Homo sapiens: one gene and its partners. The protein of the gene in region 1 interacts with the protein of each later gene in a pairwise test. Each region holds a gene or a part of one and is shown in the gene's direction. Other genes may lie near its edges.

Evidence for each region.
Region 2: the proteins of FAM107A (region 1) and RINT1 interact in binary tests that used the Homo sapiens proteins (3 or more experiments, as listed by UniProt).
Region 3: the proteins of FAM107A (region 1) and NFKBID interact in binary tests that used the Homo sapiens proteins (3 or more experiments, as listed by UniProt).
Region 4: the proteins of FAM107A (region 1) and CCDC125 interact in binary tests that used the Homo sapiens proteins (3 or more experiments, as listed by UniProt).

Annotation. Positions count from the first base shown.
Region 1 is NC_000003.12:58,574,391-58,581,507, reverse strand, and holds the start of FAM107A (actin-associated protein FAM107A), read left to right. Parts: upstream 1-4,116; 5' UTR 4,117-4,199; intron 4,200-6,693; exon of another isoform or gene 6,694-7,117. UniProt on the Homo sapiens protein: Stress-inducible actin-binding protein that plays a role in synaptic and cognitive functions by modulating actin filamentous (F-actin) dynamics. Mediates polymerization of globular actin to F-actin. Also binds to, stabilizes and bundles F-actin.
Region 2 is NC_000007.14:105,535,200-105,542,224, forward strand, and holds part of RINT1 (RAD50-interacting protein 1), read left to right. Parts: intron 1-1,365; coding exon 1,366-1,550; intron 1,551-6,527; exon of another isoform or gene 6,528-6,656; intron 6,657-7,025. UniProt on the Homo sapiens protein: Involved in regulation of membrane traffic between the Golgi and the endoplasmic reticulum (ER); the function is proposed to depend on its association in the NRZ complex which is believed to play a role in SNARE assembly at the ER.
Region 3 is NC_000019.10:35,890,516-35,897,540, reverse strand, and holds part of NFKBID (NF-kappa-B inhibitor delta), read left to right. Parts: intron 1-437; coding exon of another isoform or gene 438-482; coding exon 483-628; intron 629-709; coding exon 710-815; intron 816-1,002; coding exon 1,003-1,149; intron 1,150-1,271; coding exon 1,272-1,323; intron 1,324-1,412; coding exon 1,413-1,561; intron 1,562-4,373; coding exon of another isoform or gene 4,374-4,481; exon of another isoform or gene 4,482-4,838; intron 4,839-7,025. UniProt on the Homo sapiens protein: Regulates the expression of IL-2, IL-6, and other cytokines through regulation on NF-kappa-B activity. Functions in the regulation of inflammatory responses.
Region 4 is NC_000005.10:69,329,787-69,336,909, reverse strand, and holds the start of CCDC125 (coiled-coil domain-containing protein 125), read left to right. Parts: upstream 1-4,108; 5' UTR 4,109-4,261; intron 4,262-7,123. UniProt on the Homo sapiens protein: May be involved in the regulation of cell migration.

The DNA of each region.
Region 1 (7,117 bases):
GCTGAGGAGGAAGTTTTAAGTTGCCATGGAAACTTCTTGTTTGATGTTCGTGGGCCCAGATAAGCTGTTCTAGGCGCCCATGGGCTTGGAGAAAGGGGGCAAAAATGAAACAAAAGCTGTTTGGGGAGGTTATTTTCTGCACACTGCAGCCCAGCCCACTATAGATGCAGGAAAATTCTCCACCTCCCTGTCAGGACTGCCTCCCCTGGTCTTCCCTGTCCCCCTTCCTTTGGGTTCCTCTGGTTCCCAAGAAATCAGAGTTAAAAGGGGATGGGAGGGAAGACAGGAGGGGTGTGCCCAGCCCCTGGGCTTCCCCCTTTGATGCCCCAGCTCACCAGGGGGCCGAGCAAGTATGCAGATCCCCAGGCCCCTGGCTTCCCAGAGTCCTTCCTTTTGGAAGAATAGGAAGACCTCCAGGGAAAGCCACACAGAAGGAGGCAGGAGACAGCGACTGTGGCTTGAATTATGCAATTACCTGGAGTAAACGCCTCAAAGGCTTGTTTGTTCAGAGGGCCTCTGTTTTCCCATATTCTGATGACATAACTGAGCCAGATGTGATTCCTAACTAACTACAGTTGTTTGGGAAATGTTGCTCTTTCTCACATTTTTAATTCTTAGAGTCTTTTTCTGATAACAAAAGTAATATATGCTAGGGCCTTTTTTTTTCTTTTAACACCGCAAACATCACAGAAATGCAGTGACAAAGGAGAAGGGCCTGTAATTTTACGCTGTAGAACAATGGTCCTCAAACTCTTTAATATAAATGAGCCCCCAGAGAGGTATGTTTAAAATCCAGATTCCATGGTGGCTTCATTCCTGTGATCCTAGCACTTTGGGAGGCTGAAGCAGGAGGAACACTTGAGGCCAAGAGTTCAAGACCAGCCTGGGCAACACAGTGAGATCTCATTTCTAAAAAAAATAAAAAATTAGCTGGGTGTGGTGGCATGTGTCTGTAGTCTCAGCTACTTGGGAGACTGAGGTGGGAGGCTCGCTTGATCCCAGGAGGTCAAGGCTGCAGTGAGCCATTATGGCACCACTGCATTCAGCCTAGGTAACAGAGTAATGCTCTGTCTCAAAAAAAAAAAAAAAAAAAAAATCCAGATTCCTAGGTTCCTCCCTAGGAAAAAAAAAAAGCAAGAGCATTTTTAGCACTCATTTCAAATGACATCTAGTAATAGTATTTGAGATACACTGATCTAGAGTTGACCTCTGCTAACAGATTAGTGTATTTGCCTCCACACTAGTTCTTTATACATATACCAACTTTTTTATCTTGAAAAAAAAAAGAGATCCTACTACATATGATTTTTCATTGAATATGTAGAAGACATCTTTTTCAGGTCAATACATAGACATGTTTATTGGCTGCATCTCGTCTTGGGGTGTAGCATAGTCTCTTGCTGATGGAGTGTGGCCTGGGAAAGGGTGGTGGTTGGCCGCTGATCTCACGTACAGTTGCACCTGCACATGGACACACAGCAAGATGGTGCTGTAACAAGCTCAGCGCTGTCAAGGTTTTCGGTGTCTTCAGGTTAACAATAGTTATTGAGCCCCTCAGTACTGGGACAGGAAGATAGGTAGGTACCTGCCCTGGGGCTAGCAGTCTGATGGGTTTGTATACAAGTTGGACTGTGAGAAGAGTTTTTGTGGGAGAAGCACAGTGACTCCCAACTGCCCACGGAAAATGACGCCCAACATCCGAGGACTACTGCCCAGTTCTCCTTGGCTGTCAGGTGCGTGTTCCTCTGAAGTGTACCAGGTGATGGGCTTCTGTCTTCTCCGGGGATGAGCAGGAGCTGTCAGAAGTTCCCCCGCTCCAGGATCCTTCTTACTCTCCAACTGTTAGAAGGCACTGGGATTGGTTCATCTGAGCCACCAAAGACCCTAGGAAATATTCAAAATACTTCTTTGCAGAGCAGGAGGATGTGTGCAAGGAACCAGGGTCAGCAAAGAGTGGTTTGACAAGAATCTAGCTGTCCTCTTCTACCAGGAGAGTTTGGGGAAGTTAAGGCAGAGCAGGGTGGGAGGCTGAGGGGGCTACCATTCATAGTGCCTCAAGAAATGCAGAATTGGGGAAGAAGAAAAAAAGGGACCACACATTGTTTCCAGAAAATTGTTTTATACCCAAGAATTTAGGACCCTCTTAGTTTAAGTGGCTCGAGAATGGTCAGCGTGGCCAAGACTCCCTGGACATGCCTGCCCTGTCCCTCCCACTCCACCCCTGTCTCCCACCTCCCTCACTCCCAAGATGGCACCCAGCCTGCCTTTACATCACACCAGGATCCACCCAGTCTGGGCCTTTCCACTGGCTCTTCCCACCCTACGAAGACTCTCCCATGTGTACAGACTTCACACAACTGACTCCTTGTGATTCTGCTACCCTAAAACACCACCCGCTCTCACCTCACCCAGCCTTGCGTTCATCACGGCATTCCTCACTGCCTGACGTCATCCTGAATGTCCCCTTCTTTACTGTGTGTCCCCCTTGAAGGTAGGTTCCCTGACAGCAGGGATATTACCTGTGTCATTCACATGGTACCCCCAGCACTTAGAACAGTGCCAGGAACACAGTAGGAATTAAATAAATGTTTGTTAAATGAACAAATAATATAGGCCAAAGAAGACACAAGGTTGCCTTGTTAAAGCCTCCATTCACCTGTGATGCATGTCCTAGGCCTCATCACCTTCTAGCCAACCAAGACTCCATGAGAAAGTAAAGTTGGGGTGGAGGCCTGGTCTAACTGGTAGACCCCAGCTTCCTCACTGGGGAACTAGGATGACACTAAACGATAGAAAACACTTCCAGCTTTTCAAGTGAAAGCTGATTCTGAAATTAGGAGAATGCCTCCATTATCTATAAGCATCCAGGCTGGCCTTAAGGATCTACATACATTTTTTACTTTTCTTGGGTTTTTTTGTTTGTTTGTTTTTTGGGTTTTTTTGAGACAGTCTTGCTCTGTCACCCAGGCTGGAGTGCAGTGGCCCAATCTTGGCTCACTGCAAACTCTGCCTCCCAAGTTCAAGCAATTCTCCTGCCTCAGCCTCCCAGGTAGCTGGGATTACAGGTGTGTGCCACCACCCCTGGCTAATTTTTGTATTTTTAGTAGAGACAGGGTTTTACCATGTTGGCCAGGCTGTTCTCAAACTTCTGACCTCAAATGATCTGCCTACCTCAGCCTCCCAAAGTGCTGGGATTACAGGCATGAGCTACCATGCCTGGCCTACTTTTATATTTTACATTCACATGTTCATTCATTGAGCCACTACTTATGGAACACATATTCTGCCAGGCAAAATGCACCATGCTGGGCTCTGGCCTCAGATCACGTAGAGTCCAGGTCTCTCTTGGAGAAAAGTCCTATATGCTGAGCTTTGACTATGTGCTTCACTAATGTCATCTCATCCATGTCATCTCCCAACCACCCTGGTATGCTCCACATTTGACAAACACAGAAACCAAGACACAGAGACACTGAGTGGCTGCTGAAGGGGCTGGTGCTGGAGCCAGGGCCAACACATGAGCCTGCTGAGACCCAGACACGGTGCATCCCCTCTCCCACGCTCTTCCGTTGGCTCCTCTGTGAAGTTCCAATGACATTCAAGGTATCAGGAAAACGCTGTGTACGGAGTTTCTGACCCATTCGTGGATAATTAAGAACTGACCCAATGCTGAGCAGTTTCCCCTCCCTTTACACCCCACCCTTTTCCCCCCAGAGCCATTTTCTCCTGAAGAATCCACACCACTGCCTCAGGAAGCTTGGCTTCCCCTCCCATGGGGAAGTGCTGGAATCCACTCTTGCCTGACCCTCCCATAAGAAACAAGGGAAATTCCTTTACGTGAGCCGCCTTGCTCAGAACAAAGCTTGGCGTGTTTCTTATTCCTCATCAATCTGACAAAATGGGTATTTATTTGTGCCTCTCAAGCGTGTGGCTTGGACATGATGTTCCGCATCGTGGAAGTGGCCGTGCACCAAGTGGAATATCTGTTACTATAGTAACAGTTCCTTTTTATTGATACCAGAATAAACAGGAATGCAAAGGCTGTCTCACTTGTTGGCACATTTCAGCAGCCTCCGTTCCCAGGGGTTTAAGAACCGCCCTCTAGAGGCAGCCCTCCTTGCTAGTCTGGGACTTCCCGGTGGAGTGAGGAACCCAGCAACACGCTCCTGACTTCCCTTCCCAAGGACTCGACCTGAGAAGTAAGACCATCTCTGTTCTGTTTCATCTGCTGTTGAGAGCGGTGCCGTTCGGGAGGAGGTGGAAGGGAAGGAGGGCAGACCCGGTACACTGAAGTGGGCTGTCAGTGGACCTGAGTGCTTTGAGTTTAGGTACCCGGGCTATGTCCCAGCATCCATAAAATGATACGGGAGATGCCTCCAGGCACCCTGGGTTTCGGAAAAGGGTAGGAGACAAAGAAGCGAGCCCCCTGGCATAGCCCTGCATTCTTGTTGATCTTTTTCTGCTGCATCCTCAGGTGAATCTGAATTAATGCATGATATAGCCTCACCTAAGTCAATTATCACACAGTATGGGGGTTTAATTCTCAGCACAACAGACAGAACACAGATTTCAGCTTCAGAGTTTGGCTCAGATTCAAGCTCTTTCCTTCACCGGCTGTGTGATTTGGGGAAATCAGATGACTTCCCTGAACTTCAGTTTCCTTGACTGTAAAAAGAGGATAATAACAGTACCCACCTCTTCAGTCTGTCGTAAGAATTTCATATTTCATGAGATATGGCTGCTAGGTGCTTAGCACAGTGCATGGCACATAGTGCACGCAGGTTAACGTGTGAAGGGCCTGCCTTTCTGGTGAATTTGGCTTTAGGACTTTGCAATACAAGGCAAGTCTGAGATTGGGCCAGAAATCAAGAGCTGTAGGATTGGGTGTGTCACTTTTTGAAACTGCTACCAAACCCAAGTAGCTTTGAGCTTCAAGGCAGCCCCCACGCCTGCATCTCTGGGTGGCTTAGATCCTGAGTGGCCCTCTTAGTTCTGTTGGTGGTGAGTACCTGCTGGAATTTTCCCTGCAGAGGCATCTGCCAGGTAAAGTGGCTGACATCATGCCACTAATGAGCCAGCAGGGATTCCAGGTCTGCTGATGCTTGTTCCAGATCAACTGCACAATGCTGTCCACTAACCTTGCTAAGTATCCTCCATGTCTAGCCCTGGACTCTGCTATTTAATTGGTTCAAAATCCTAAATGTCCACCCAACATTCTCCTTCCGAGGTAGGAAGTTGCAACGGACCTGAGGCAAAATGTTCAGGAAGTCAGCCTTGAGTCATTGCATCCAAATGGACAAGCAGCTCTGCTGGGGGCTTCCGAGCATCGACCAGAAGCTGCTGGGAGATCTGGAGGTGGCTCCGAGATACACTGTTCTTTGGCTGCTGGCCAGTGAAATACAAATAGGCACTTTCCCCATGGAGAGGAAAAAAGCCAGAAGGGTCAGGAAATCCAGTGACCGTGCTTGTCACTTTTACTGAATGCCTGTTTTTCCTTTGCCAGTCGTTATTTTGAAAGCCTCTCTTCTCCTCTGCCCTGGCATCCCATTAAATGCTGAACCAAGAGGGTTCTGAATGTGTTCGGAACCCAGCAGCTTGAACAGTAATGAGGAAGTGGGGGCACAGGAGGGAAGGCCACCAGCTGGTCCTCTCCTAAACAGAGACCAGCCTGAGGCCAGACAGGCCCGTGGACTCTAGCTTAAGCCCAAAGCTGCTAGGGCCAGGCTGGGGCTCCCCAGTGAGAGTTTGCATTTCACGTAGGCTAGGAGTCCTCAAGTTAGCAGGCCTCCATGTTCTTATCTATAAAATGGGCTCACACAGCCTCTTCATTGGGGTTTCTTGACTATCTAGAGAGAGAAAAGGGACATAACCCTGCTTTGTCAACTAAAAGACATTTTGCACCTTGAAGACAGTGGAGAGGTAGAAAGAGCATTGAATTTGGCGTCCAAGGTCCTGGCTTTGCTGCTTACTCTCTGTGTATCGAGACAAGTAGCTTGGCCTCTCTGAGCCTTAGTTTTCTCATCTATAAAACAGGGTACCACTGGCTGCCTCCAAGGGTGATTTAGAGATCCAGATCAAATTCTAGTGGTGACCACAGGGTTTCTTCAGGACAGAAGTACCATAGTTTGTCTTCGGTGAGCATCACTCTGCCAGGCGCTGGGCTAAGCACATCATGCCATTGTATCACTTCACCCTCCAAACTGCTCCATGAATAGGCTGTTATCCTTGCTGTATAGAGGCTCAGAGAGGTTAAGCTACTTGCCCAAGGTAACACAGCTGGGAAGGATTGCCACCATGAATCAAACCCACTCTGTCTCCACTAAAACATCTGCTTTAACCATTGCTTTACTGGCTTATGTGTCATTTGTTACAACTGATGCCATCGAAGACAGAAACATGACTACCAGAACAGTGGAGAGGCAAGTGGAAGGGACACTGAGGCCTTAGACAGCCTGGGGTCCCATGGCTATTGTCAAGACGAACTGGGCCCCGAGACTCCATCAGTGCAGCTCTCCTTCTGTCTCTCCTTACTCTCTCCTGTGGCTGCAGGCACCAGTGTTTGGTTTCAAATCTGCCACCCTGCATTAGCCATGCATGCCCCAGTGGCCCGGTGCACTCTCCGTGGGAGCAGCAGTGATCTCTGCTGAGCCTTGCCTGGTGTGGGGCCAACATCCTGTGGAGCCTGTGGCAAGGAGCTCTGGGACCTCTTGGGTCACCAACAGAACCAGGGAGGAACCAAGCAAGGGGTTCCAAATCTTTCCTCAGACCCCTTATTATCCCCACCCCAGGAAAAACAACATCAGTCCCATAAACTGCATATTGAGAATTATTTGCCATCCTATAGTCATGCAAGACACTCAATAGCTGTCGCCTACTGGTGGCCTCCACCCCATGCCCAGCTCTTTAGCTCATCCAATCTTCACAGCATCACAATTCTACAGAGGAGCATCCCAGAGGTTAGAGACCATCCCAAGATCACACAGCTGCTAAGAACTGTGACCTTAATCAGATTTGCTCACAATAACCAGGCCAACTACAGTCAGCTGAGATCCTTCAGGACCGAAGCAAATAAGTTTGTGTTTTGGGTTTTTAACTCCATGGTTTGCAAAGTTGGCTG
Region 2 (7,025 bases), on another chromosome or scaffold:
GACATCGATGACATTTGAAGCTTAAAAACCTTTTTTTTTTTTTTTTTTGAGGCAGAGTCTCACTCTGTTGCCCAGGCTGGAGTGCAGTGGCGTGATCTCGGCTCACTGCAACCTCCGCCTCCCGGGTTCAAGCGATTCTTCTGCCTCAGCCTCCCGAGTAGCTGGGACTATAAGCGTGCACCGCCATGCCCAGCTAATTTTTGTATTTTTAGTAGAGACAGGTTTTCACCATATTGGCCAGGCTGGTCTCGAACTCCTGACCTTGTGATCTGCCTGCCTCAACCTCCCAAAGTGCTGAGATTACAGGCCTGAGCCACCTCGCCCAGCCAAACCTTTTTTACTTTTTTGTTTGTTTGTTTGTTTGTTTTTAAGAGATGAGGTCTTGCTCTGCTGTCCAGGCTGGAATGTAGTAGTGAGATCATGGCTCACTGCAGCCTCCATCTCCCAGGCTGCTCAAGCAATCCTCCCACCTCAGCCCACCTGAGACTACAGGTGTGTTCCACCATTCCTGGCTAATTTTGTTAGATGAAGTCTTGCTTTGTTGCCTAGGCTGGTCTAGAACTTCTGGGCTCAAGTGATCCTCCTGCCTTGGCCTCCCACAGTGCTGGGATTACAGGTGTGAGCCCCTGCGCCCGGTCTTTTTAAAAACACTTTAAAACAAGAGTCTTCTTTTGGTGTTGCCCTAGACCATACTACTGGTTCCTTACACATTTTGAAAAGGTATTATTCCTTGTCTATTGAAACCTGTGGTTACTGGATCACACTTTAGGAATTTTTCCTTTAATACTTCCCTCAGCTCTTAAGCATTTTGCAGTAGTTGTTTGATAGAGTGCTTTAGAGCTATTCTTCTGGGCATTTGTCTGTGTGTGTTGTTCTTTAAATTATTAACTTTGTTTTGTTTTGGTTTTGTTTTTTGATACAGAGTCTCTGTCGCCCAGGCTGGAGTGCAGTGGCGCTTTGTTTTGGTTTTGTTTTTTGATACAGAGTCTGTCTGTGTCGCCCAGGCTGGAGTGCAGTGGTGTGATCTTGGCTCACTGCAACCTCTGCCTCTTGGGTTCAAGGGATTCTCGTGCCTCAGCCTCCCGAATAGCTGGGACTACAGGCCTGTGCCCCCACGCCTGGCTAATTTTTGTATTTTTAGTAGAGACGGGATTTCGCCGTGTTTGCCAGGCTAGTCTTAAACTCCTGGCCTCAGGTGATGCACCTGCCTCAGCCTCCCAAAGTGCTGGGATCACAGGTGTGAGCCACCGTGCCTGGCAAAATTATTAACTTTTGAAGGCAGATAAACTGCTTTTATATGTTTTATATTTTCTTTAACTCCATAGTACTTAGTGGCGTTGAGTAATTGTTATTCTTTTGTTGTAGGTGACATAAATGTTACAGTTCTTATTGGAAGTAAACAAGTCAGTGAAGGTACAGATAATGGTGATCTCCCTTCTTATGTGTCTGCATTCATAGAAAAGGAAGTTGGAAATGACCTTAAATCTTTAAAGAAACTTGATAAACTCATAGAACAGAGGACAGTAAGTAAAATGCAGTTAGAAGAACAGGTAAGTATTGAAACTCACTGAAATAATTATCAGTGGAATACTTTTAACAATATAATATAAACATAATCTATTATATATAGAATTTTAAAGATATAGAACGTGACAAATAGTCTATTATATACTGTTTAAGAGGATTTAAGAACGTACATTGTATTACCTATTTTACAAATTAGGTAAAAGACAAAGTTCCTACTGATATGGTTTGTCTTCAAAACATAGTGAGACCTAACATTTTACATAGATTTTCATAGAGTGACTTTTTTTTCCTTTCAATCTGTTTCTAGTGAACATACAGTGACTTTTAAATTGCTTTTACAAGCAAATAATTTCATGGCATACAAAAATATATACCATGGTGTAAACACCATCATTTCAATTTTTTTTTTTTTTTTTTTTTTGAGACGGAGTTTTGCTCTTGTTGCCCAGGTTGGAGTACAATGGCGCCATCTTGGCTCACTGCAACCTCTGCCTCCCAGGTTCAAGCAATTCTCCTGCCTTAGCCTCCCATGTAGCTGGGATTACAGGCATGTGTCACCCTGCCCAGCTAATTTTGTATTTTAGGTAGAGATGGGGTTTCATCATGTTGGCAAGGCTGGTCTTGAACTCCTGACCGCAGGTGATCCACCTGCCTTGGCCTCCCATAGTTCCGGGATTACAGATGTGAGCTGCTATACCCGGCCACATTTCAGATTTTAATAAATGTACCCATAGGGAGAAGTATAAAGTGAAAAGAAGTATAACGTAACGGTTATTTCTGTGTGGTTGGTTGACAAGTGATGTATTTAAAAAATATTTTTAGGCCTGGCACGGTGGCTCACACCTGTAATCCCAGCACTTTGGGAGGCCAAGGCAGGTGGATCACCTGAGGTCAGGAGTTTGAGACCAGCCTGACCCACATGGTGAAATCCCGACTCTACTAAAAATACAACAAAAAAAATTAGCCAGGTGTGGTGGCGGGCACCTGTAATCCCAGCTACTCGGGAGGCTGAGGCAGGAGAATCGCTTGAACCCAGGAGGCGGAGTTTGCTGTGAGCTGAGATCATGCCATCGCACTCCAGCCGGGGCAACAAAAGTGACACTCCGTCTCAAAAATATATATTTCTATGTATTTATAGGTTTTTTTTTCTTTTACAATGAACATATCACTTAAAATAATTTTTTAAAAACCCAATGAGTATAAGCTTAAACAAAAAAATAAGTAGGCCCCTCTACTTGGCAATGGTGTGTTTGTCAAAGATAAAACATTTTTTTCTTTTTTTTTGAGACGGAGTCTGACTCTGTCGCCCAGACTGGAGTGCAATGGCGTGATCTCGGCTCACTGCAACCTCTGCCTCCTGGGTTCAAGTGATTCTCCTGCCTCAGCCTCCCGAGTAGCTGGGACTACAGGCACGCGACACCACGCCCAGCTAATTTTGGTATTTTTAGTAGAGACAGGGTTTCACCACTTGGGCCAAGATGGTTTCGATTCCTTGACCTCGTGATCCGCCTGCCTTGGCCTCCCAAAATGCTAGGGTTACAGGCATGAGCCACCACACCCGGCCAAGATAAAACATTTTTATCATATAGCTACTAAATTAGGTTAAGTAAATTCTGTGTGGGTTATTTCCAGGTTTTTGGTCATCGTATATTCTCCTGTCCCCATTACCTTAGGCCTCCACACCTTCCTGTCTTCCCACCACAACTACTGCTAGTCTTCAAGTTTAGCCTGGCTTTGTCTGCCTTTTCACTCCTGCAGGCAGGTTGTTGTGGGCCCAGTTGGAGGAAGTCATGCAGCTGAGTAGATTGATGCCAATCTATGTGTGTGGTCTGCCACCCTGGCTGAGTCTTCAGCCCCACCAGCAGTCCTTCCATGGGAACGTCAGCTCCTCTGCTACTCCCCTCAACTGTTCTTTCAGATTCTGTTTGAGACATCTACCCAACCTGTCCATTCTGCCCTTTCCTTTTCCCTAGCAGAAAAAAATAGAAGCCTAGCATGAATTTAGTAGCATTGAATTCAGTCTGTTGAATAGTCTATCCCACAATCGACAAATTTATGTGCAGTCATTTTTAACCTCTTCATTCAGCAAAGGATCAGTCGAAGGCAGACCTTATACCCCAGGTTCTCTCTGCCACCTCAGTAAACTTGTGTCACTCTTATAATTTTACCCTGTGTTCGTCAACCAGTCCTATCCCTTCAGCATGTGCACATAGACAGGTCTTTTCCATAAAACCTTAACAAAGAAACAAAAAAACCCATGATCTTTTAGCAGGTATTAGTTCTTTCCTTTGATTGTCAGGCTTCAGAAAGTAACCTTTGTTATCTATCTCTACTTTTTGTCATTCATCTTTTACCCACTGTAATCAGGTTTGTTTCCCTAATGACCACAGAAACTTTTACTGAAGTTCCTTATTGAACCTTAAATTCAGCATGTCCAAAACTATACTGATCCATTTTTTAGAGGCTTGTCTGTCTTGGTTAGATAATGGCACCACTATTTGCCTGTCACCCAGACCTGAAGCCTAGGAGTCCTAGATTCCTTCTTATCATCCTCTCATCCTCTATCCCATCACCAAGTCATCTGAGTTCAGCCTCAACATCTCTGGTATCCATCCCATCTTTCCCACTCTTTTTTTTTTTTTTTTTTTTTTGAGTTGGAGTTTCACTCTTGTTGCCCAGGCTGGAGTGCAATGGCACAATCTTGGCTCACTGCAACCTCCACCTCCTGGGTTCGAGTGATTCTCCCGCCTCAGGCTCCCAAGTAGCTGGGATTATAGGCATGTGCCACCACGCTCGGCTAATTTTGTATTTTTGGTAGAGATGGGGTTTCTCCATGTTGGTCAGGTTGGTCTCAAACTCCCAACCTCAGGTGATCTGCCCGAAAGTGGATCTTGGCCTTCCAAAGTGCTGGGATTACAGGCGTGAGTCACTGCTCCCGGCCCATCTTTCCCACTCTTGCTGATACCATGTTAGTTTAGGCAGATTGGGAGCTTTGTAGAAATGCAGAATCTCAGTCTTACTTCAGACTTACTGTATCAGAATCTGTATTACAACAAGATCTTTAGGTGATTAATGTGCCCATTCATTAAATATAGCCTGTCTATTTTATTGCATTAATCCCACTGTTGAAATTATTTGCTTACAACACTCTTATATACCAAAGTGACCTGAAGGACGGATGCTGTGTCTTGTTTATCTGCATATTTCTAGCGCAGTGCCTGGTACAGAATAAGTATCTAATCACTGTTGATTGAAATTATTCTATAATGTTCTTTGTATTTTGCTGATGACTAATATTTGTATATGTTTTCCCACATACTATAAGAAAAATTCACTTAATAAATGCCATTTTCTTTTTTTTTTTTTTTTTGAGATGGAGTCTTCCTCTGTCGCCCAGGCTGGAGTGTGGTGGTGTGATCTCAGCTCACTGCTACCTCTGCCTTCCGGGTTTCAAGTGATTCTCCTGCCTCAGCCTCCTGAATAGCTGGGATTACAGGCATGCGCCACCATCCTCAGCTCATTTTTGTATTTGTATTTATTTTATTTTATTTTTTGAGACAGAGTCTCACTCTGTCGCCCAGGCTGGAGTGCAGTGGAGCGATCTCAGCTCACTGTAACCTCCGCCTCCTGGTTTCACCAATTCTCCTGCCTCAGCCTCTTGAGTAGCTGGGATTACAGGCTCATACTACCACACCCGGCTAGTTTTTGTATTTTTATTAGAGACGGGGTTTCACCATGTTGGCAAGTGTGGTCTCAAACTCCTTACCTCAAGTGATCCACCAGCTTCTGCCTCCCAAAGTGCTAGGATTACAGGCATGAGACACTGTGCCCGGCTGAATTTTTGTATTTTTAGTAGAGACAGGGTTTCACCATGTTGGCTAGGCTGGTCTCGAACTCCTGACCTCCAGTGACCTGCCCTCCTTGGCCTCCCAAAGTGCTGGGATTACAGGTGTGAGCCACTGCACCTGGCCACTAAATGCCCTTTCTAAAGGCATTGCCTGGATATCATCTCATCAAGTCAGTGCTTCTTAGCCTGGCCTTAATTCAGAATCACCTGGGGTATGTTGGCAAAATATAGATGCTCAGCCTGTTAGAATGAGATCTTTGTTTCCTTTTTTTTTTTTTTTTTGATATGGAGTCTCGCTCTGTCACCCAGGCTAGATGGCAGTGGCGCAGTCTCGGCCCACTGCAACCTCTGCCTCCCGGGTTTAAGAAATTCTCTGCCTCAGCCTCCCAAAGTGCTGGGATTACAGGTATGTGCCACCATGCTCAGCTAATTTTTTTGTATTTTTTAGTAGAGACAAGATTTTGCCATCTTGGCCAGGCTGGTCTTGAACTCCTGACCTTGTGATCCACCCACCTTGGCCTCCCAAAGTGCTGGGATTACAGGTGTGAGTCACCGCACCCAGCTTGCATTTTTTTTTTTCTTCTTTGAGGAGTCTTGCTCTGTCACCCAGGCTGGATGGAGTGCGGTGGTGCAGTCTCAGCTCACTGCAACCTCCTCCCGGTTCAAGTGATTCTTGCCTTGGCCTCTCTAGAGCTGGGATTACAAGGTGTGTGCCACCAAACCTGGCTAGTTTTTGTATTTTTAGTAGAGATGGGGTTTCATCATGTTGGCCAGGCTGGTCTTGAACTCCTGACCTCAAATGATCCGCCTGTCTTGGCCTCCCAAACTGCTGGGATTACAGGTGTGAGCCACCGTGCCCGGCCCTTCCTTTGCTTTGAAGGAAAATATTTAGCAGGTAGAGCATGTATTAATAAGTTTTCTCGGCCTGGCACGGTGGCTTATGCCTGTAATCCCAGCACTCTGGGAGGCTGGGGTGGGCGGATCATGAGGTCAGGAGTTCGAGATCAGCCTGACCAACGTGGTGAAACCCCGTCTCTACTAAAAATACAAAAATTAGCCGAGCGTGATGGCACGTGTCTATAATTCCTGCTATTTAGGAGGCTGAGGCAGGAGAATCACTTGACCCCGGGAGGTGGAGGTTGCAGTGAGCTGAGATCACGCCACTGCACTCCAGCCTGGGTGACAGAACGAAACTCTGTCTCAAAAAAATAAAATAAGTTTTCTCTAGCTGGATCCTCTGCTGAGCCTATGGAGGCAGACCTCTAGATGCTTACTGGAGCCAGTGAGTTAAGTCCCTTTCTCTACATGTATGTGTATATGTATGTATGCATATATTTTTTATTTTATTTTTATTTTTTTGTTTCACTTATTGTTTTCAACACAAAGGCATACTTCTTCCTGCTATTTGTGTGTATATAAAACAGCATGTTATGTTTGGATTGATTAGTACAGGATGAAGAAATCAAACCTTTTTTTGAAGGTTTTGATGGATGATTTTCAGTTCTGTTACAAAAAATGTGTATTTTGAAGGGAACGAACTAATAAAAAAGGTTACATACAGCCTGGGCAACATAGTGAGACCTTATTTCTATTTAAAGAAAAAAAAAAAAGAAAAGCCAGGTGTAGTGGTGCATATGTGTAGTCCCAACTA
Region 3 (7,025 bases), on another chromosome or scaffold:
CGGGCGTGGTGGCTCACACCTGTAATCCCAGCACTTTGGGAGGCTGAGGCAGGCGGATCACTTGAGGTCAGGCGTTTGAGACCAGCTTGGCCAACATGGTGAAACCAAAAATAAAAAAATTAGCTGGGTGTAGTGGCGCACGCCTGTAATCCTAGCTACTCGGGAGGCTGAGGCAGGGGAATTGCTTGAACCCAGGAGGTAGAGATTGCAGTGAGTAGAGATTGCACTGCTGCACTCCAGCCTGGGTGACAGAGCAAGACTCTGTCACCGAAAAAAAAAAATACCCTTTTCCAGGTGGGCAAAACTGAGGCCTAAAGGTCCAAGGTCACTTGGCATAGATGGGATACCCAGGGGCTCTGCATGCAGATGTGTGTGTGGTGGCTTGGGATGGAGGAATTCTCAGCTGACTGGGTCTCCCCACCACCTGCACCCTCCAGGACCCCCCAGACACCCAGTTCTATGTAGGATCTTCTCTGCCACAGGCTGGACCCTGGAGAGTTTCTGCACCCCCTTCAGGACCCCCACAGTTCCCCGCTGTGGTCCCTGGACCATCGCTGGAGGTGGCCCGAGCTCACATGCTGGCTTTGGGGCCACAGCAGCTGCTGGCCCAGGATGAGGAGGGGGACACGTGAGTATAAGGGATAGGGTTGTCTGCAGACTCTTGGCTTGGTGGGGGCTGTTCTCACGGCTGTCCCCCACCTGTCCTCAGGCTCCTTCACCTGTTTGCGGCTCGGGGGCTGCGCTGGGCGGCATATGCTGCGGCTGAGGTGCTCCAGGTGTACCGGCGTCTTGACATTCGTGAGCATAAGGGCAAGGTGAGGCTTGGGGCCTGAACTCTCCTGGGTTCAGGGGAGGAAGGAGCCTGGGGCCTGGACCCCTGGATCCTAGAGAAGAGGGGAATGGGGGGTGAGCTCCTGGGGCTGAGGGGGGATGGGGCTGGGAGCCTGGTTTTCTGACGGGAGGGAACCAGGAGCCCAACCTGACTTCTCCTGTGGCCTGCAGACCCCTCTCCTGGTGGCGGCTGCTGCCAACCAGCCCCTGATTGTGGAGGATCTGTTGAACCTGGGAGCAGAGCCCAATGCCGCTGACCATCAGGGACGTTCGGTCTTGCACGTGGCCGCTACCTACGGGCTCCCAGGAGTTCTCTTGGTATGGCCAGCTGGCAGGCAGGGGTTTGTCTGGGGGGTAGACTGGTTGCCCAGATTTTGGCTTCCAGGGCCAGGAGGCCAGGGGATACCCTTACCCAGCAGTCTGCCTTCTCTTCCTCCCAGGCTGTGCTTAACTCTGGGGTCCAGGTTGACCTGGAAGCCAGAGACTTCGAGGGTAAGTTGGGTGTGGGCAGGGCTGGTGTGGTTGGTGTGGCTGGGCGAGGTGGGTGCAGATGCGGGTCCCTCACTGTCTCCATTCTGCAGGCCTCACCCCGCTCCACACGGCCATCCTGGCCCTTAACGTTGCTATGCGCCCTTCCGACCTCTGTCCCCGGGTGCTGAGCACACAGGCCCGAGACAGGCTGGATTGTGTCCACATGTTGCTGCAAATGGGTGCTAATCACACCAGCCAGGTGAGCGGGGATGTGGGCGGTCAGACCCTGGGAGATTGTGTGGAATGGGGCCACTTGGATGTCCGGGAGCTCCAGGCAAATGCTGACTTTGCCTCTTCCTTGCTGCGTGCCCTTGAACATGTTACTTCACTTCTCTGTGCCTTAGGGGTTTTTTGTTTGTTTCTTTGTTTGTTTTGAGATGGAGTTTTGCTCTTGTTGCCCTGGCTGGAGTGCAATGGTGTGATCTTGGCTCACCGCAACCTCTGCATCCCGGGTTCAAGTGATTCTCCTGCCTCAGCCTCCTGAGTAGCTGGGATTACAGGCATGAGTCACCACGCCTGGCTAATTTTTTTGTATTTTTAGTAGAGACAGGCTTTCTCCACATTGGTCTTGCTGGTCTCGAACTCCCGACCTCAGGTGATCCACCTGCCTTGGCCTCCCAAAGTGCTGTGATTACAGGCGTGAGCCACCGCGCCCAGCAGGGTTTTTTTGTTTGTTTGTTTTTTTGTTTTTGAGACAGGGTCTCACTCTGTCGCCCAGGCTAGAGTGCAGTGGTGCAATCTCATCTCATGGCAAACTCTGCCTCCCAGGTTCAAGTGATTCTCCTGTCTTAGCCTCCTGAGTAGCTGGGACTATAGGCGCACGCCACCATGCCTGGCTATTTTTTTTTTTTTTTTTTTGTATTTTAGTAGAAGTGGGCTTTCATTGTGTTGGCCAGGCTGGTCTCAAACTCCTGACCTCAAATGATCCTCCCACCTTGGCCTCCCAAAGTGCTGCGATTACAGGCGTGAGCCACTGTGCCTGGCCCCTAGTTGTTAACTGGGAATAATATTACTGACCTTAGGGTATGTTATCAAGCACTTACTATTCATTCATCAAGCACTGAGTTTCATAGATTAGCTTATTGAAACCTCACAAACACCCTTTGACATGTGTACTCTATTTTCTCTATTTTACTGAAAAGGAAACAGGCATGGGAAATCAAAAATCTTTTTTTTTTTCTTTTTGAGATGGAGTTTTGCTCTTGTTGCCCAGGCTGGAGTGCAATGGTGTGATCTCGGCTCACCACAACCTCCGCCTCCTGGGTTCAAGCGATTCTCCTGCCTCAGCCTCCCGAGTAACTGGGATTACAGGTTCCCACCACCACGTCCAGCTAATTTTGTATTTTTAGTAGAGACAGGGTTTCTCCATGTTGGTCAGGCTGGTCTCGAACTCCCGACCTCAGGTGATCTTCCTGCCTCGGCTTCCCAAAATGCTGGGATTGCAAGCGTGAGCCACTGCACCTGGCCTCAAAAATCTCTTTGAGACAGGGTCTCACTCTGTCACTCAGGCTGGAGTGCAGTGGCATGATCACAGCTTATTGCAGCCTTGACCTTGTGCACTTAAGTGATCCTCCCACCTCAGCCTCCCAAGTAGCTGTGATCACAGGCATGCACCACCATGCGTGGCAACTTTTTTGTAAGGTGGGGTCTAACTATGTTGGCCAGGTTGGTCTCAAACTCCTGAGCTCAAGCAATCCTTCCACCTCTGCCTCTGAAAGTGCTGGGATTACAGTTGTGAGCCACTGCACCCAGCCTGAAAAATCTTATAGCTTGTGACTGTCAGAGAGAGAATTAGAACCCAGGTAGTCTGACTTTAGAACCTAGCTTTTAATTATGTTCTGTTCCTTTCCTGTGACAGTAGCTCCTTCATAGGCTGGCTGAGAGAATTAAACATCCACAAAAAATGTTTATTTATTTATTGAGATGGAATCTCACTCTGTCACCCAGGCTGGAGTGCAGTGGCATGATCTCGGCTTACTGCAACCTCTGCCTCCCGGGTTCAAGCCATGCTCCTGCCTCAGCCTCCTGAGTAACTGGGACTACAGGCATGCACCACCACGCTTGGCTAATTTTTTTGTATTTTTAATGGAGACGGGGTTTCCCTATGTTGGCCAGGCTGTTCTCTCAAACTCCTGACCTCAGGTGAGCCGCCCGCCTTGGCCTCCCAAAGTGCTGGGATTACAGGCATAAGCCACTGCGCCCAGCCGAAAAATGTTTTTTTAGTTAAAGAATGTTGAACACCAATAAAATATAGAAAATAGTGGAATGAACTCCATATGTCCAACATCAATAACCAGCCACTCATGGCCAGTCCTGCCCCATCCACTCTCTCACTTTCAAGTGATTTTTTTTTTTTTTTTGAGATGGCTCTCGCTCTGTCACCCAGGCTGGAGTGCAGTGGTGCGATCTCGGCTCACTGTAAGCTCCGCCTCCCGGGTTCACACCATTCTCCTGCCTCAGCCTCCTGAGTAGCTGGGACTATAGGCACCCGCCACCACGCCCGGCTAAATTTTTGCATTTTTAGTAGAGACGCAGTTTCACCGTGTTAGCCAGGATGGTCTCGATCTCCTGACCTCGTGATCCACCCGCCTCGGCCTCCCAAAGTGCTGGGATTACAGGCGTGAGCCACTGTGCGTGGCCTCTCACTTTCATGTGATTTTTAAGCAAATTCCAACATGTATTTTTTTCAAAAATATTTGTGTATCTTTAAAGAATAATGGTGTTTAGCAGAATTAGCTAGATGGTGGGGATGGACTGTAAGAAGGACGGGCATGACTGAGTAGAGACAAGATAAGGCATTATTAGCGGGGTTAGGAAATGAATGATGGTAATCTAGGCTCTTAATGGTTGCAAAGTAGAGCTAAGTGATCATTTGGGCAATACAGAGAAGGTGAAATTGATACTTTGGTAATTCATTCGTTTCTTCACTCAGAATTTTGGACACATATGATGTAGCTACCAGTGTGCTAGTGATGGGGCATAAAGTTGCTTTTTGTTTGTTTGTTTTTTAGAGACAGAGTCTGGCTTTGTCACCCAGGCTGGAGTGCTGTGGTGCGATCACGAATCACTGCAGCCTCGACTTCCTGACCTCAAACATTCCTTCCACCTCAGCCTCCTAAGTAGCTGGGACTACAGGCATGAGCCACCTCACCCGGCTAATTGTTTTATATTTTTTGTAGAGAGGGGGGGTCTCACTATGTTGCCCAGGCTGGTCTCGAACTCCTGGGCCCAAGTGATCCCCCAGCCTTGGCCTCCCAAGTGCTGGGATTACAGGCGTGAGCTGCTGTGCCCAGCTACCTATAATGTTTTAATAAGAAAAGACCACTTTCTTGTACTTTTAGACATTAAAATTTAATGGAAAAGAGAGGAGATGATAAGTAAACAAAGAACTGAACATAATTACAAATTGGGATGAGAGCTGCCTTGGGAATGTAGAAGGAGCTCTTAGACAATAAAAAGATTGGCTTTATATTGGATGCGGGGCTCACAATGAAGGTCATTCTGAGGAAATTACATTTAAGTTGAGCAAGAAATGATGAAGAGGAAGAATTAACTGTGTGGTAGGGTTCTGGGAGAACTCAGAAATCAGGGAGTATTTCTCTGAAAAAAGGACAAATAATTTTTTTTTTTTTTTTGAGATGGAGTCTCGCTCTGTCGCCCAGGTTGGAGTGCAGTGGCACAGTCTTGGTTCACTGCAACCTCCCAGGTTCAAGTGATTCTCCTGCCTCAGCCTCCCGAGTAGCTGGGACTATAGGCATGTGCTATCACACCCCACTAATTTTTGTATTTTTAGTAATAATAATAAGTTTTTTAAAAATAAGAAAGATGGCTGGGTGCGGTGGCTCATGCCTGTAATCCAAGCACTTTGGGAGGCTCAGGTGGGCGGACTGCTCGAGCTCAGGAATTCGAGACCAACCTGGGCAACATAGGGAGACCCCATCTCTAAAAAAAATACAAAAATTAGCTGGGCTTGATGGCACATGCCTGTGGTCCCAGGTACTCAGGAGGCTGAGGTGGGAGGATCACCTGAACCTGGGGAGGTCAAGGCTGCAGTGAGCCATGATTTTGCCACCACACTCCAGCCTGGGTGACAGAGCAAGACCCTGTCTCTCAACAACAACAACAACAATAATAAAAGATAAGAACTCTTTCCCTGTAATCCCAGTGCTTGGGGAGGCTAAGGTGGGAGGATCACTCGAGCCCAGTAGGTTGAGGCTACAGTGAGCCTTGGTCACACCACTGCACTCCAGCCTGGGCAACAGAGCGAGACCCTGTCTCAAAAAACAAACAAAAAACATAGCTTTTTTTTTTTGAGACGGAGTCTCACTCTGTTGCCCAGGCTGGATTGCAATGGTGTGATTTTGGCTCACTGCAACCTCTGCCTCCCGGGTTCAAGCTATTCCTGTGTCTCAGCCTCCCAAGTAGCTGGGATTATAGGCATGTGCCACCACGCCTGGCTAATTTTTGTATTTTTAGTAGAGACGGTTTCACCATGTTGGCCAGGCTGGTCTCGAACTCTTGACCTCAAGTGATCCGCCCTCCTTGGCCTCCCAAAGTGCTGGGATTACAGGCATGAGCCCCTGTGCCCTTCGAAAAAAAAGAACTTTTTAAACCTCAGTATCATTGCTCTGTCTTTAAAAAATTAAAGATTTTCTTGTAATACCAAATATCCTGGCTGTATTCAAATTTCCTTTTGGCTGTAAAATGATAATTTTTTTCATTAAAAAAAATCAAGATCCAAATAAGCACACATATTATGATGTTACGTCTTTTCAAATCACTCTTAATCTAGAGCTTTGGTTTTGTCTTCATCATTTTTTGGACGAGCAAACTAGGTGGTTTTGCCCTGTTATCAGCACATAAAATGTTTAACATTCATTATCGTTACAAACTCCTTAAAGACACATAAAAAGGTTTCATTTTAGAAAATGTCTTTTATTTTCCCCCAAATATGATGGGAACAGCTCAATATTGTGGTGCAGTATTGCAATATTAGCTAGTCCACTGATTAATGCTGCCAACTCCTGTGCTTGTAGATAAAGTACAGTCTGTGTGGGTCGGGATGCAATTTAATGTGTTGAATGGAGGGCAGGTAGCCAAGGCAGTTGCTTTGAAGAACTGGAAAAGGAGTCTCTTTCTCAGACACTGGTGGGAAAATTGTCATGAGAAATGTACAGTTCTGGAAGGTGTATGGTGTGAATGGTACACCCTGAGACGTGGTGTTGTGCGGTGCACAAGACATACAACTGAATAAGGCACTCTTGGTGGGGCTCGCAGAAGAGGGCCAGCATCTTATTTATTTATTTATTAATTTTGAGATAGAGTGTCACTCTGTCACCCATGCTGGAGTGCAGTGGTGTGGTCATGGCCCACTGCAGCCGTGAACTCCTAGGCTCAAATGAACCTCCTGCCTCAGCCTCCCAAGCAGCTGGGACTACAGGTGCGCACCACCACGCCTGGCTAATTTTTCTATTTTTTGTAGAGATGAGGTCTTGCTGTGTTGTCCAGGCTGGTCTGCAGCTCCTGGCCTCAAGTGATCCTCCTTCTTCAGCTTCCCAAAGTGCTAGGATTACAGGCGTGAACCACCGCACTCCGCCAAGGGTCAGGGTCTTTAAAGACTCCTGGATTCTGTGGGAGGGCACCTAGGTGTGAGGCTGGCCCTG
Region 4 (7,123 bases), on another chromosome or scaffold:
TTCCAGCCTCAGCCTCCCAAAGTGCTGGGATTACAGGTATGAGTCACCATGCTGGGCCTCACATGTTAGGTTTTAATGAGGTCTCTTAGTTTGCCGCTAGGATCAAGTCCTCTCTCTTTTTTTTTTTTTGAGACGGAGTCTCGCACTGTGGCCCAGGCTGGAGTGCAGTGGTGCAGTCTCAGCTCAATGCAACCGCCGTCTCCCGACTTCCAGCGATTCTCTTGCCTCAGCCTCCCGAGTAGCTGGGATTACAGGTGCGTGCCACCACGCCCGACTAATGTTTTGTGTTTTTAGTAGAGATGGGGTTTCACTGTGTTAGCCAGGATGGTCTTGATCTCATGACCTTGTGATTCACCCACCTCAGCCTCCCAAAGTGCTGGGATTACAGTCATGAGCCACCGTGCCCGGCCTCAAGTCCTCTCTCTTACCTCTCACTGATTCAGCCACATACAATTATTTTGATCACCTGCTATGCACCCATGGTGTTCTTGGCACTAGGAATCCTGCTGTGAGTGAAGCTGAGCTCCTGCCTGGGTAGAGCCTGGGCCACATGGGTCTCCCAGCTGTGCTTTGAAGTCACTGTCAAAAGTCCTGGGCACTGGAGAATTTCATGTGTCTGTTGCTAAGGCAAGATGCCAAATTCCACATTTGCCTCCAACAGGAACAAATGTCAGTTTCCACCAAGCCCCACCTTGTTCAGGTGACTCCTGTTGTGAGTCTTTTCATACCATCTCCCCTTCACCCACAAGTGCCACCAACAGGCAGAGGTGGGGAGCTGGGTTTGGAGATACTGGTCTGATCCTTAGGTGAACTCCTCTCCCCTGATGTTGCAGGAGAATGGGTGCTCAGATGGAGAATCAGCACTCTTCTCAGGATTGGAAGGTGCTGTGGCTGGGGGAGTCTGCATTATGTTCTGGGCTGTGAGCTTTTCCAGAATTCTGCTCCACAGGCACACATCTGCTGTGTATGTATTTCATGGTATAAATCAGATGTCCCTGAGTTCTCTAGTATTGAATGTCTATGTAAAAAGTGTCTAGCCCCAACTGAGGATGCTGGAAGTCTAGTCTGTTAGGAGGCCCCTGAATATGTGCTTGTCTTGTGTGACCTTCCAGGAGGTGACTCAGTTCTCTTTTGTTCTGTTTCTTGCTCTAGGCTATTGCTCCATTTTTTTGTAGGTCATCTCCTGCCACTTCTTCTCTAGGGTAATGCTGTTTGCAATACACAGTTCCTTGTCTTGGTTTCCCAAGCATCTTAGTTCTGAAAGTGAGATATGGGCTTGTCTGGGACGTGGGGGACAAAGATCAGGTGCCTCCACAAGTGACTCTCCTCAGCTCCCAGCCAGCTGACAACTGCATGGACTGATGGTCTCTTTCTTTCCTTATCTGCATGCTGGTTTCCAGGACTTTGCGCACCCTGAAGGAGCCTCATATGACCCAGTAGTTTCATTCCTAGGCAGCTTTTATATCTTTTATCATTTTTCTAAGCTTAAGACACCTTTGGTCAGCCACGGTGGCTCACGCCTGTAATCCCGGCACTTTGGGAGGCCAAGGCGGGCGAATCACCTGAGGTCAGGAGTTCGAGACCAGCCTGACCAACATGGAGAAACCCCCTGTCTACTAAAAATACAAAATTAGCTGAGCGTGGTGGTGCAGACCTGTAATCTCAGCTACTCCAGAGGCTAAGGCAGGAGAATCACTTGAACCCGGGAGGCAGAGGTTGCAGTGAGCTGAGATCTCGCCACTGCACTGCAGCCTGGCAACAAGAGAAAAACTCTGTCTTTAAAAAAAAAAAAAAAGACTCCTTTTCTTTCCTCATTAATTTGGCGGCCACGTCTGTCCGGAACTTGTGGGACGTCCTCGTCTTCATCAGGTTGGCAGATACTCCAGCATGGCCTGCCGGCCGCCGAGGCCACCATCCACAGGCTCAAGGGCTCCGTGGTCGCTCCTTCGTGCTCCCGCCTCCAGAGGGAGCCAGACAGTGCATCCTTGCAGTGGACGCCGCCCGCCCGCAAAAGCCTGTTTTTCAATGACTGCCTCTACCTCTGAACCTCAGCTTAGATTTCTCTCTCTCTCTCTCTCCCTCCCTCTCCCTCTCTCTCTCTCTCTCTCTCTCTCTCCCACCCCCACCTCCTCTTTTTAAGACAAAGTCTTGCTCTGTCACCCAGGCTGGAGTGCAGTGGCGCGATCTCGGCTCACGGCAAACTCCGCTTGCCGGGTTCAAGAGATTCTCCTGCCTCAGCCAAGCAGCTGGGAATACAGGCACCTGCCACCACGACCGGCTAATTTTTTTTTTGGAAGAAAATGACTTTATTCTAATTAACTCACAAAGAATAAAATCATAACAGCTAGTTTAAGGAGGCCACACAAACATTTGCCCTGTCACAGATTCTACAGAGTAGGAACACCCCCCTTCCATTTCAATTCTGAAGCAAGGAAGCTAGGAATGACAGGAGAGGTTTAACTCATGGTTACACTTTATACCCTCACTATCAATTCTATTTTTATACTAAATTAACTTAGTTATGAGAGCTGATTTTCCATCTCTCCAGGTTGAACTTCTTGATTAGGCCAATCCGTTTGCAAGTCGGCACTGTTTCAGCACCTCATTGAAACCCTCACAGAGCTTGATGTCACCCTGGTTCTGGGCACACTCCAGAAACTGATCTCATAGAAGCAAGGCTGCTGCTGCTGTGCCGGCTGGGTTCCCTGAGGCTCCTGGTAAGTGATGTCAGGCCTCGCAGGCTCAGCATTACTTCCTCCCCTGAAAGCCCCAGTAATGGCGTGACCCACAGCAGAGCCCACAGCCACGCCAGCTGCAGTGGTTGCCATCTGGGCCATCAGACCTGGCTGCCGGGGCGCAGCAGCAGAAGAGCCAACTACAGATGGGGGTGCCGCTGCTGGTGGCTGAACGACTGGTACTGGCCTGGGTGCAGCTCTCATCTGAGGGGGCCTGGCTGGCCGGAGGGGCCATGCGGGAGGTGCGGCTTCGGCTTCCACGCGGCATCCTAGGTACGCGACGGCTCGGCCTCCGGACGTGTGACGACCGGCTAAATTTTGTATTTTAGTGGAGATGGGGTTTCACCATGTTGGCCAGGCTGGTCTCAAACTTCTGACCTCAGGTGATCCACCCACCTTGGCCTCCCAAAGTGCTGGGTTAACAGGCGTGAGCCACCGCACCTGGCCCGATCTACCCTTCTCTTACAGGATTCCTAGAGACTTAATATTTTGGTTTTGGTTTGTTTCTTTTTTGAGACAGGGTCTCCACTCCGTCGCCCAGGCTGGAGTGCAGTGGTCACTGTAGCCTGGATCTCCCAGGCTCACGGGATCCTCCCACCTGACGGCCTCCCGGCCTCCTGAGTAGCTGGGACTACAGGTACGCACCACCACACCCGCTACTTTTTAATTATTTTTTTTTTTTGAGACGGAGACTCGTTCTGTTGCCCAGGCTGGAGTGCAGTGGCACGATCTTGGCTCACTGCAAGCTCCGCCTCCCGGGTTCACGCCATTCTGCCTCAGCCTCCTGCGCAGCTGGGACTACAGGCACCCGCCACCACGCCCGGCTAATTTCTTGTATTTTTAGTAGAGAAGGGTTTTCACTGTGTTAGCCAGGATGGTCTCAATCTCCTGACCTCGTGATCCACCCGCCTCGGCCACCTAAAGTGCTGGGATTACAGGCGTGAGCCACCGCGCCCAGCCCTACTTTTTAAATTTTTTGTAGAGCGGGGTCTCACTATGTTGGCCATGCTGGTCTCGAATTCCTGGCCTCAAGCGATCCTCCCGCCTTGGCCTCCCAAAAGCTGGGATTACAGGTGTGAAACCCCGCGCCGGTCTGAACCTCAATGTTTGAACCACCAAATTTTACCTGTATTGACACAGGCCCCGTCTTGTTGTTTTTCTAAATCTCATGTCATTGTTTGCATATTGGTTACCCGTGGTTGGCTTTGGAGCTGAAGGTGGACAGAGCTAACATCAGGTTGCACACAGGAACACAGTGAGGTCGCGAAAAAGTAGCGCGAGCTGCCTCCATGGCCCAGGGCGACCTCACCGGCGTTTCCTGTCTGGGACTGCGCCCACGCGGTCACGTGGTGGCCCGGAGGACGCGCGGCGGCAGCGGCGCACGCGCACGGAGAGGAGGCTACTTGCCAGGTGAGCGAGCTGAGTGGGGCGCCGGGGCGGTAGGAGGGTGCTGTTCGCTGAGCTGGAGTCCGGGCTCCGGTCCCCGCCACGGACCTTGAGAGGGTACCCGGGGTCAGACCTGGCAGGTGGGAACCGGGAGTGGGGAGGACCCAGGGCAGGGGCGGGATGCGCAGATTCGTGGAAACTCTGCAGGTTGTGGACAAACTGCCCAAATCCTTTTCCCTGAATGCCAGTTTAATGGCCTCGTCTGATAAGAAAAAAATAAGAAATAGATTTCAGAGACCCTATTTCTCTCTCTGCCTCTCCACCTGCTTTACTTTTTTTCTCTTCTGTTAATTTTGAGCCTTATAAAACTATAGCGCCAGTATCCTGGTTTGGATCCTGAAACAGAAAAAGACATTAGTGGAAAAAATAATAAAGGCTGTGGTTTAGTTAATAGCACGTACCCATGTTAATTTCTTAATTTCGACAAATTGTACACAAATGTTGACATTAGAGGAATTTGGGTAAAAGGTACACAGGAATTCTTAGTACTATCTTTGCAATTTACTGTACATCTAAAATTATTCTAAAATGAAAAGTTAAGAAACAAAATCCTAAAGCAAAGTGCAGCAGGCCATTGTTCACCAGGGAGGGCTCAAGTTAGTTCCTCTTTGTCATGGAGTTAGGCATGTTTGACCAACTTGTTTGCTAAGGCAGAGTTGTCAGGCTACTGAATGTAGATTCTTCTGTCCAAAGGTTTCCGGGCAGGAATCGGTTTTCTCTTTCGATTCTGTCAAATATCTTTGGAACACATGTTGTGCATAAGCAAACGAGACACACAAAGTCTCTGCATAAGGGAATATACAGTCAGTCTAGGTCAGGTAGGAAGTAAGCACTATTAAAAAGATTCAGTAAAACCTCCCAGAACTGGGAAGACTCAGATGTGGAAGAAATCACATCTGGTCCAAGGGAGTCAGGAAGGCTACTGGAGGGAGTGCTGTCCTGAACTGAGGGGGCTCTGAGAAGAAACAGCATTCCTGGGGTGAAGAATGGCACCAATAGAGGCTTGCAGGTGACCAAGCTGAGCTGAGGGAGGAGCCCTGGGAGCAAGTGCAGTTCCTCTTACGTGGAAGCGCAGAGTACATCCAGGGAGTACTGCCAGATGAAACTGGAGGTGAAAACTGTAGCTTTGTTGTAGAAAACAGGGTGACACTTCAGTTGGATACATTATTTTTATTTTTATTTTTTTGAAACGGAGTTTCGGCTGGGCGCAGTGGCTCACGCCTGTAATTCCAGCACTTTGGGAGACCGGTGAGCAGATCTCCTGAGGTCTGGAGGTCTAGACCAGCCTGGCCAACATGGTGAAACCCCGTCTCTACAAAAATACAAATATTAGCCGGGCATGGTGGTGGGCGCCTGTAATCTCCGCTACTGGGGAGGCTGAGGCAGGAGAATCGCTTGAACCCAGGAGGTCTAGGTTGCAGTGAGCCGAGATCGCACCATTGCACTCCAGCGTGGGTGACAGACAATAGTGCTGTCTCAGCTCACTGGAACCTCCACCTCCCAAGTTCAAGCGATTCTCCTGCTTAGCCTCCCAAGTAGTTGGGATTAAAGGCGCCCGCCACCATACCTGGCTAATTTTTGTATTTTTAGTAGAGACGGGGTTTCACCATGTTGGCCAGGCTGGTCACAAACTCCTGACCTCAGGTGATCTGCCCGCCTCAGCCTCCCAAAGTGCTCGGATTACATGTGTGAGCCACTGTGCCCAGCCTACATTTTTTTTAAAAAGGAAAACAGGGTGACATTGACTACAATTATACATGCCATGGGAGCCATGGAATGTTTTACAGCAAGAGAGAGACATCATTCGGTTTGCACTTGGATATTATTGACTTGGCAGCAGTATGTAGGTTGGCTTGAAGTAGACCAATTAGGAAATTATCAGGCTAGCCTTGGGGAATTAAAGAGACGTTCCACCAGGGCAGTGAAATTAATGTGCAAAGAATGACATAGTTTGGGGAGATTTTTTTGGGTCTAGAAGACCTAGCAACTGAAGGCATGTGAAGACCAAAGAGGAAAAAACAATTCCAAAGTTTTGCTCCTGAGTGTTTTGGAGCATAGTTGATGCATTTGCAGAAATAGAGGACTCAGAGGGAGACCTGGAATGGGGGCTGGGAGGATAGTGAATTTTTTTTTTTTAGATGGAGTCTTGCTCTGTCACCCAGGCTGGAGTGCAGTGGTGCAATCTCGGCTCACTGCAATGTCTGCCTCCCGGGTTCAAGCGATTCTCCTGCCTCAGCCTCCCGAGTAGCTGGGACTACAGGTGCACACCACCGTGCCCAGCTAATTTTTGTATTTTTAGCAGAGACAGGGTTTCACTATGTTGGCCAGGCTGGTCTCGAACTCCTGACCTCATGATCCGCCCGCCTCAGCCTCCAAAGTGCTGGGATTACAGGCATGAGCCACCGTGCCCGGCGGTGAATTTGTTTTTGAGCAAGATGTGCTTGGATTGCTGGTGGAATATCCAGTTGGAGATGTGTATTTAAGATTAGTAAAAGAAGCCAAACATTTACAAAAGGGACAGGAAAAAGAAAAAGAGCCTTAGAGGACAGATATGAGAAGATATGAGTCAGGGAAGGAGGAGGATCAGATTTCTATTTCTAGGGGCTTCAGGAGTCAGGTGGACCTGGACTTAGTGAGTCAGTAGTGTCACAGCTCCTGCAAAGGTAGAGGAGACTGAGGAATGAAACTTGATCTTGGATTTATCTATGAGGAAGTCACTGGTCATCTTTTAAAGAGTTGTTTTAGTGGAAAAGTGAGACGACTGCTAACAGACTGTAATCTATTCATCCTACAGCCTTTCCCAAGTGGCCAGAGGACTGGACAAAGAGCCAGAAATATTGTTTCTAGTCCTGGCTCTGCTGCTAATTACCATTGTATTTGGGGCAAGTCACGTATGCCTGGGCTGGAATAGAAAAAAATACATCCGAGCTGGGCTCGGTGGC